Linked DNA regions of Homo sapiens. The protein of the gene in region 2 purifies or fractionates together with the protein of the main gene of each other region. This does not show direct contact. Each region holds a gene or a part of one and is shown on either strand. Other genes may lie near its edges. The genes, in order: NCAM1 and OPCML.

What was found.
Region 1: the proteins of OPCML (region 2) and NCAM1 purify together in Homo sapiens (affinity purification with mass spectrometry; one large-scale study listed by BioGRID and IntAct). This does not show direct contact.

What each region holds. Positions count from the first base shown.
Region 1 is NC_000011.10:112,967,811-112,971,630, forward strand, and holds part of NCAM1 (neural cell adhesion molecule 1 isoform 2 precursor), read left to right. Parts: intron 1-3,820.
Region 2 is NC_000011.10:133,525,731-133,529,550, forward strand, and holds part of OPCML (opioid-binding protein/cell adhesion molecule isoform b precursor), read right to left. Parts: intron 1-3,820. UniProt on the Homo sapiens protein: Binds opioids in the presence of acidic lipids; probably involved in cell contact.

The DNA.
Region 1 (3,820 bases), about 21 Mb from region 2:
AGAAAAAAATGGCCTGATTATAAGGTTGAAAACCATCAGCACAAGGGTGGATCTAGGTCTTGTTGGGCCTGAAGGGTATATAATTTTGAGGGCCTTCTTTAAGGAAAATACAAAACTCTTCTTGCTTTTGCGAAGGTTAGTTGAATACATGACCATGAGAACACATTGCCAAGTCCCAGTCCCCCAGAGCCTTGGAAGGAGTCCATGCAGTTGAGGAACCCTGAAAACTTCTGGTCCTTCTTTAGCAACTATCCTTTGGTCCACTTGGACCCACTTGCTTGGGAATATAAACTAATCGTTCCAGTTTATTAAACGTGGACCTCATAGAGGTTGTATGTGTAGTGCTTTGAAGATTAGAATCATATATTGAAGTCAAAGTCATTTTTAGAAAGAAGTATTTCACTTTTATTTGACAGAAGATCTTAAATGAGATCTGAGCTGATTTGATATTTGTCACTGCCGATATTCTTGTAAATTACTAACTAGAAGAAAATAAAGCAATTGCTATTATTATTCAAATGAGTGAGATGTAAGTGCCCGATTGGCAGGGCAAGAAGTAGTTTTGCCAGCTAAAGGCATATGATATTGGAGAGGAGACTGAAGATTTTGTTTTAGCTATCTAAAAGGAGATAAACTGGATATATAATACCAATAATTATATCTTAATCATCACGTTATGGTTTACAAAACACTTTGATATGTGCTTAATCTTCACACTAATTATTTAGTAAATATTGACTGAGTACGTGCTCTGTGCTGGGTGCTGGGAATACAGCGGTGAACTAAACGTACATCGTCCCTGTTTTCATGGAGTTTCCAGTCTAGTAGTACAGAGAAATATAGACATTAAAAAGTAACACATACATTTATAATTACATATTCAGATTCAAGTCTAAGAAAAACCCAGGATGAGAGATTATCAAGGGGGATTGGGTGGTTGGGGAGGTGAAGATGTAACATTTAAACAACTGTGAAATAGGAAGAACAGATGGTATTCTCATTTTAGGGCATGGTTGATTGACTACTTAATTCAACAAACATTGAATTACAACAAACATTCCTGAATTCCTTAACTCAACAAACCTTTGTGAAGTCTGGAGAAGGTCAGATAGCTTCAGGAATCGTGTGGAGTTTCACGTTATGAAGTCCAGGAAAATAATACATCTGCCTTTAGAGCTTACCACCTGGAAGGAGGGGAGACAGACATACTATACTTATAAACAGAGGCATGAAGTAAATGCTGTTGGGCCACAAGAAAGGAAGCAATTAATTCTGCCTGGGACTCCCTCGAGCTGGGCTTGGGGAAGAATTGCTTTCATTAGATGGAGCAGGAAGAAGGGGTGATCTGGGCAGAGCAGACACCCTGAGCAGTGGTTGAGATCTGAATCTGGTTGTACATGGGGAACAGTGTGAGAGTAGTGGGGAGGAGTAGCCAGAGATAAGGAGAAAAAAAAATTCTGCAAGTCCAGATTGTAAGTCTTTAAATGGAAACTGAGACTGAGAAAGGTTAAATGACTTAGGCAGGTGGAGCTGGGACTGCAACTTACGTTCGTTGTCTGAATTTTATCCTTTTCTAAGGCAAGGATAATTTGAATATATATAGCATCTGAATACATGCCAAGCAAACAGGAATTCCTGTGGCTTCTGGACTGAGTCTGACCAAAGTGTGGGAGGAGTGATGGGGAGGAAGGGCACTATTCAGAGCTGTGGTCTGAAGGAACCGTCCTGCCATTCTGCAAGTTGCTGTCGTTCTGAGCCTGTTTCCCCATCTGTAAAATGGGGTTAATGACACTTCCCTTGTGGGTCTTGGTGAGCTGAAATAAAACCACATATGTAAAGCAGATATAAAGTATGTACTCATTATGTGCTTTAAAAAAGTTCCCTGTGGTCAGATATTTTATTTGAAATGTTTGTTTAAAAAGGTGTACAGTACTCTGAATATGATGTGCAAAGTTCTGTGCTAGAGGCTTAGAGGAAAAACAAAATAAATTTAAGGTTACTATACTGACCCTTTCAGGTGGTTGGAGAGGAAGCACTTTTGCTTAGTTCAAGCTGCGAAGAAATCATGAAAGATATTATATCAGTAAGTGCCCGAATGAAGCAGGCAGGTAAAAACTGGGAAAATTGAGAGGCAAAAATCATGTCTATTAGTTTTAATGTCTGGGGGAAAAAAGAGGTATAGAAAAGCTAGAACTGACCTGGACCTCCACAGATATGAAGGTAAATAGGGAGAGAGGGCCTGTTTTCCTATAGGATGAGGTGGATCTGGCCAAAGAATTGCTATTGAAGAGCAGTTAAAGGCTGGAACTTGGGGCAAGCCATATTTAAATCTTAAATGTCAGACAAAGGAGAGGAGTCCTGCTGGAGATGACAGAGAAATTAAAAATATATATATATGTTTAAGAGGATAGTTAACAATAGCAACTGAGCGTGTGCTGCCTCAGGCTCTATGTTTGGGACTAGCTGGGAATTAGCAGAGAGTTAAGTAGGAACAAATTCATATAGTTCATTGCAGCACTAAAAGGGAATTCTGGTTTTATATAGCATCCACTATGGTGGTCGGACAAAATGAAGGGCTAACGAAGGGATTTTTATTGCTGTATGAAACATCAACTAGATGATACTAGGAGAAGGGAGGCTAGTGAAGTCCAATGAAAGTATCTTGCTTAATCAGTAGGAACACCTGTATGCGGGGAAAGGACACCATTGGGCTTAGATTCGAAAGATCTGGGTTCAAGAAGTTGCTCTGCTACTAACTAGCCAAGTGAATTTATATCAGTTATGTAACCTCTTTGAACTGTAACTTCCGCAATCGAATATAAGAACAAAATAAGATAATATATGGGAAATGCATTGTAAATGAAATATTTCACAGCTATACATTTTATTAGTAGACATGTTGCTGAAAAATAAAAATCAAATTTTATGTACTGCTAGAGGTGCTTGTTTGATTAAAGAAACCCAACTATGATATATTTTCTAAAGCAGGAAATTTTGGAAAGATACACTTGTAATGATTTTGGATAAGGATAAAGGGGGCATAGCTGAGATGTTAGAAATAACAAAGCAACCAAGGGTAGATGATAGATCCCAAATGGTAGATGACTGAGAGGGAGAAAGATCTTTGAAGTTACAAACTCGAGGAAATTAAATAATCATGGTACTGTAAATATGATGGAGAAATTAAGAGACAGGTTAGGTTTTAGAAAAAGTTTGGGCCTCCTAATACCTTAACTTGTAGGTCAGTATTTTTCAAACTATGGATGATGAAATCTGTTTAACGGGCTTCCATATATATTAAGAAAGAAGTAAGAGAGGAAGGAAAAAGGGGAGGAAGGAGGGAGAGAAGGAGGGAAGAAGTGGAAAAAGAGAGTGTGTTTTATATAAGGGTAAGTACTGCTTTGAGTACTTCAATTTCTCTCTCTCTCTCTCTCTGTCTCTGTCTCTCTCTCTCTCTCTCTGTGTAATATGTAACTTGGTTGTAATGGAAAATACATTCTTTTGGCTCAGGTCAAAAGAGTTTGGAAGCTACTGTCATCGAAGGAAGAATGTGGGATCAAAGAGAGGGTGAAGCAGTCTGTAGTGGAGTAAGAGTACGTCAGAAGGTATAGAATAGAAACTGAATGGGTTGTGAGGGTGGGGAGGAAGAAATGACAGCAAAGTTACGTATTGAGCATCTAAGCAGTCAGTTAACGACAGGGTGTGAAAAAAACAAAACAAATCAAACTCTAAATGTTATACCTTTTTTTGAAATGGTATCTCACTGTGTTGCCCAGACTGGCCTCAAACTCCTGGGCTCCTGCCTCAGCCTCCTGAGTTG
Region 2 (3,820 bases):
TCAGGCCACTTGAGAGACTCTGCCCCTTGAAGTGCCAGATAGCCTGGTTTTCTCCACGTTGGAGTTCACTGTGCAATCTGATTGTCACTTATCGTTTCCCATGCTAAGTGCAAGGAGCCATTCCAATCAACGGCCTGTGTCCCACTGCATCAATTCATCTTGGCCTTTCCGGGGGTCTCTCAGCACAGCATCTCCGCTCATTAACGAGAATGCGCCTGCATCATAATGATAATCCTTTGCACTTACCCAGCACATTGCCCAGGGGGTTCTCAAAGCATTTTGTAAACTTTTAATTAAGTTAGGCTAGTGACTGCAGGATGGTCCCCAGCCTCTCCGAACCAAGAGGTCTGGGGTGGGGGTGGCGACAGGACGTGATGGGAGACAAGCAAAAGCCCTGCCTCTAGCACCTACTTACTGGCTCTGGGGCGCAGAGGCGAGTGGGTGGATGTGCAGGGAATCTCTGCGTTGCTAGGAAGAAGCACTCACACATGTATGGCCGTGTCTGGCACAGGCAGCCTGTGGGCCTCCTGCCATGTGTGCCCACAGGGAGAGCACCAAGGCTGGGGGCTAGAGTTGGGAGTTCTGGAAAGGCAGATATAGAAGGCAAGAGGGAAGACTTGCTTTCCTTAAAGAGCTGTGAATGTGATTTTGAGAGTAGCTAAACTCTGGCTTGGAAATGCATGTGTGCCTTGCGTGTATATGTGTGCAGGAAGGGGCATGCATCTATGGTTGGCAAGGGGGTGGTGAAGAAGAGAGGAGGGAATGTATGTTCACATGCTTAGAGGAAGGCAGTAGCAAGCACATTCATCTTCAAGCTTCTCTCTGGTTTTGGATTTCTTTTGGCTCCCTTCTCAGGGCTACCTTTAATCCTTCCCTGAGCCATACAAATACCACCATCTTGGGGTATCAAGTGAGTGGTGTATAAATCCAGCAAGTGGAACTACATCCATGCCCTACTGTGTTAGAACCATCCCCACCCCTCAGGGAAAATGCAGAGGCAACCAAGGCTTTGCAGATAAGTAGCAAGTTGTAAGTCTGGGTCTCCCACCAACAGCATAAAAGGCAAGAGGGACAAATGTCCTCAGGACCTAGCCCTGCACTGAGGACTGGGATCAGAAGGAGTGGGAGAGCAGAGCCGCCCCAAGGTGAAGCCACCTGCCTGGCCCTCTCTGTCTGGAAAGTGCCAGTCGGTATCAGAGGTGCTAACATCCACTGCTCCTGACAGCCTGGCTTGTCAGCAGCCACAGACCATCTGGGGGCTGACACTTGAGCTCACTGACAGGAATCACAGTTTGCTTCCATATCTCTCTGTCTCCAGCCCCAGGCAGCTGCAGGCAGATGGCAACAGTCCATCTGCAAACAGGGCTGCAGGCTGATGGGGTCCCTGTCCAGCGGACCAGCATCAGAAAAGCCAGTGCCCATAGGCCAAAGGCTATTAGATGGGGCTCCTGGAGTTCCAGCTGTCCAAGGCTGACATACAAGTCCATGTATCTAGCACCCCACCAAATATACCACAAAGCAACGTTTTGAGAGACCAAAGGTGCCATGTCTGTTGCCTTAGTTTTCTACAGCAGAAAAACTAAGACCTAAAAGCTCAAAGTCAGAATGCATATTTTATTGGGGGTCAAAAAGAAGAAAAAGCTTAACAATTTCCTGTTTTACTCGATTAATGATTTTTGAGGCAGGAGAATATCTTAATACATTGTTTAATCAGAACGTATATAAAGTCTTGTTCAATAAATGAAGGAGTAGATTGTCTTTTACTAATTTTCATCACTGTGACAAAGACATACATATATGGTCAGTATGATTCTACCTTATCTTCTCCCATTTTTAACAATATGGAATGTCCTCTCCCCTTCTCCAACATGCGAGTTGCCTTCTCTCTTTACCCTATTCCTAGAGGACCAGGATGAGTTTTTTTATAATAAAAATTTAGAAGTGTTTATTTGTTATCATCTAACCTAGGTGTTCAGCTACTCTGTGCAGTTGGAAACAAGGTTCATACATGGCTGGAACCCATTCTACAGATTGGTAAACTGAGACTTAGAGAATGCCTTGAACCAACCAAATAAGCCTCAAAGAGCCACTAATCAAAGAGATCACTCTCAGCTTTCAGCATACTTAGAGGTTTGGGTGGAGTCCCACTTAAAGGGAAGTGCACTCAGCCCCAGGCAGCCCTGACACAGATTTGAGGCTGTAACCACCAGAGATAGTTCCCAGTAGCTGGCATGGGAGACCCAGGCCCAGAGCTGCTAGACAACAAATGCAGGCAAGTGCCAGCTGTCTAAAGAATCTCCTTCTGTAATTTTCTAGGTTACAGAGATGTGGCCAAGGGTGCTAAGAATTCGAGAAAGCACAAAGGCAGACAGGACCGAGGGAACATGGGAGAACCTCAAGCCCGTCGGGATCTCTGATTAATCTCAGGTTGAGTAGTGCTGCCCAGTTCCAGGCTACTGAAAAAGCCATCTTCATGAGGCAGCTGATGCTATCTCCTTCTCAGCACCTGCTATTGCCACTGGGCCCATGCTGAATGCAGATGACGCAGTCTAACCTTATTAACATGTCGATCATTTTTAAGGGATTGAGGGCCACATGATGGCGTGAATCCATGATGGGCTAAAGGACGATGGGAACTTGCTCATGACCAGATGCTCTGTCCTTGTTCCTATCTCTTTCTTAGTGAGTCTGGCGCGTGGATTCCCCCACTAGACCCCTTGTGCACATCAGGCACTCTTAGCAGGTTCGCCGGCTCTGGGCTGGTGAGAGGCTAAGGAGCAGGAAAGGAATTCATCAAAACTTGGCTGTAGAGCCTGCCCCCAGGCCTTACCCCAAAGCCAAACATCCCAGCCCAGAAACTCAAGATTTGGGGACTTCCCTGAAGGAAGAAGCAGGAAGGTGTGTGCTAGAGAAGGAAGAATCCTAAACCTCGGGGGATTTTCTATCCAAGCCCAGGGTTTTCTGACCCTAAACGGGCAAAGCCTGTTTAAGGTGCAAGAGATGAAGTTGTACCCAGAACCTGGACTCACAGATCAGCGCATGAAGACACAGCTCAATCCAGGTTGGGTAAATGGGGACCCCTCCCAGCTAACTCCCCTGCTTAGAGTCACAAGACGAAGGAGATACAAACAGGATGGGCCAAGAAGAAGGGGACAAACAGGAAGTCATGGTCTGAATTTGAGCAAAGAAGTCTTCCAAGTTAGCAATCCTTGCATCATGGTGCTGGCCCCTGGAAGGACTTGGGCAGCACTGTGCCTCAGGAACTGAGCCTTGGCTGCTGGCAATGACAACATCTTCTTGCCCTTACTCCACCCTGCCCCATGGCCACAGAGCCATTTCTCAAAGCTGGAGGAGAAAAGACAAGAAGAAGACAGGTTTTGACTCAAATACTCAAATACTCAAATACTGTAGGCCATGGTCACAGGTTTTAAGTGACAGACAGAGTGGTTTGCAGGTAATCAGAAGGACCTGGGATGCTAGTTCAAAATGCTTCCGTCTGAGACGAGGACAGGGACTCCACATTTTAACCTGCCTCTCTCCTCCTAGGTGATTCTGATGCACATATCTAGCAGTATTCGCTTCCTGCTTCCTACAGAGCCCCCAGACCCAAGGTCAAGAAGGCCACCAGCCCAGACTATCTCTCTCCTCCTACTAGAACAACAAAATTACCCCAACCAGGGGTGTCCAGAGCCTCGGACTGTGCCTCTAGCATGACAAGTCAGTTGGCCACGGGCCCTCTGCCCTGTCTTGGGTGTGGGCTCATCTCAGTCTCCACGTGGTGACTGTCTTTTCCATCCCAGAAATTCTGCCTAGAAAAGCT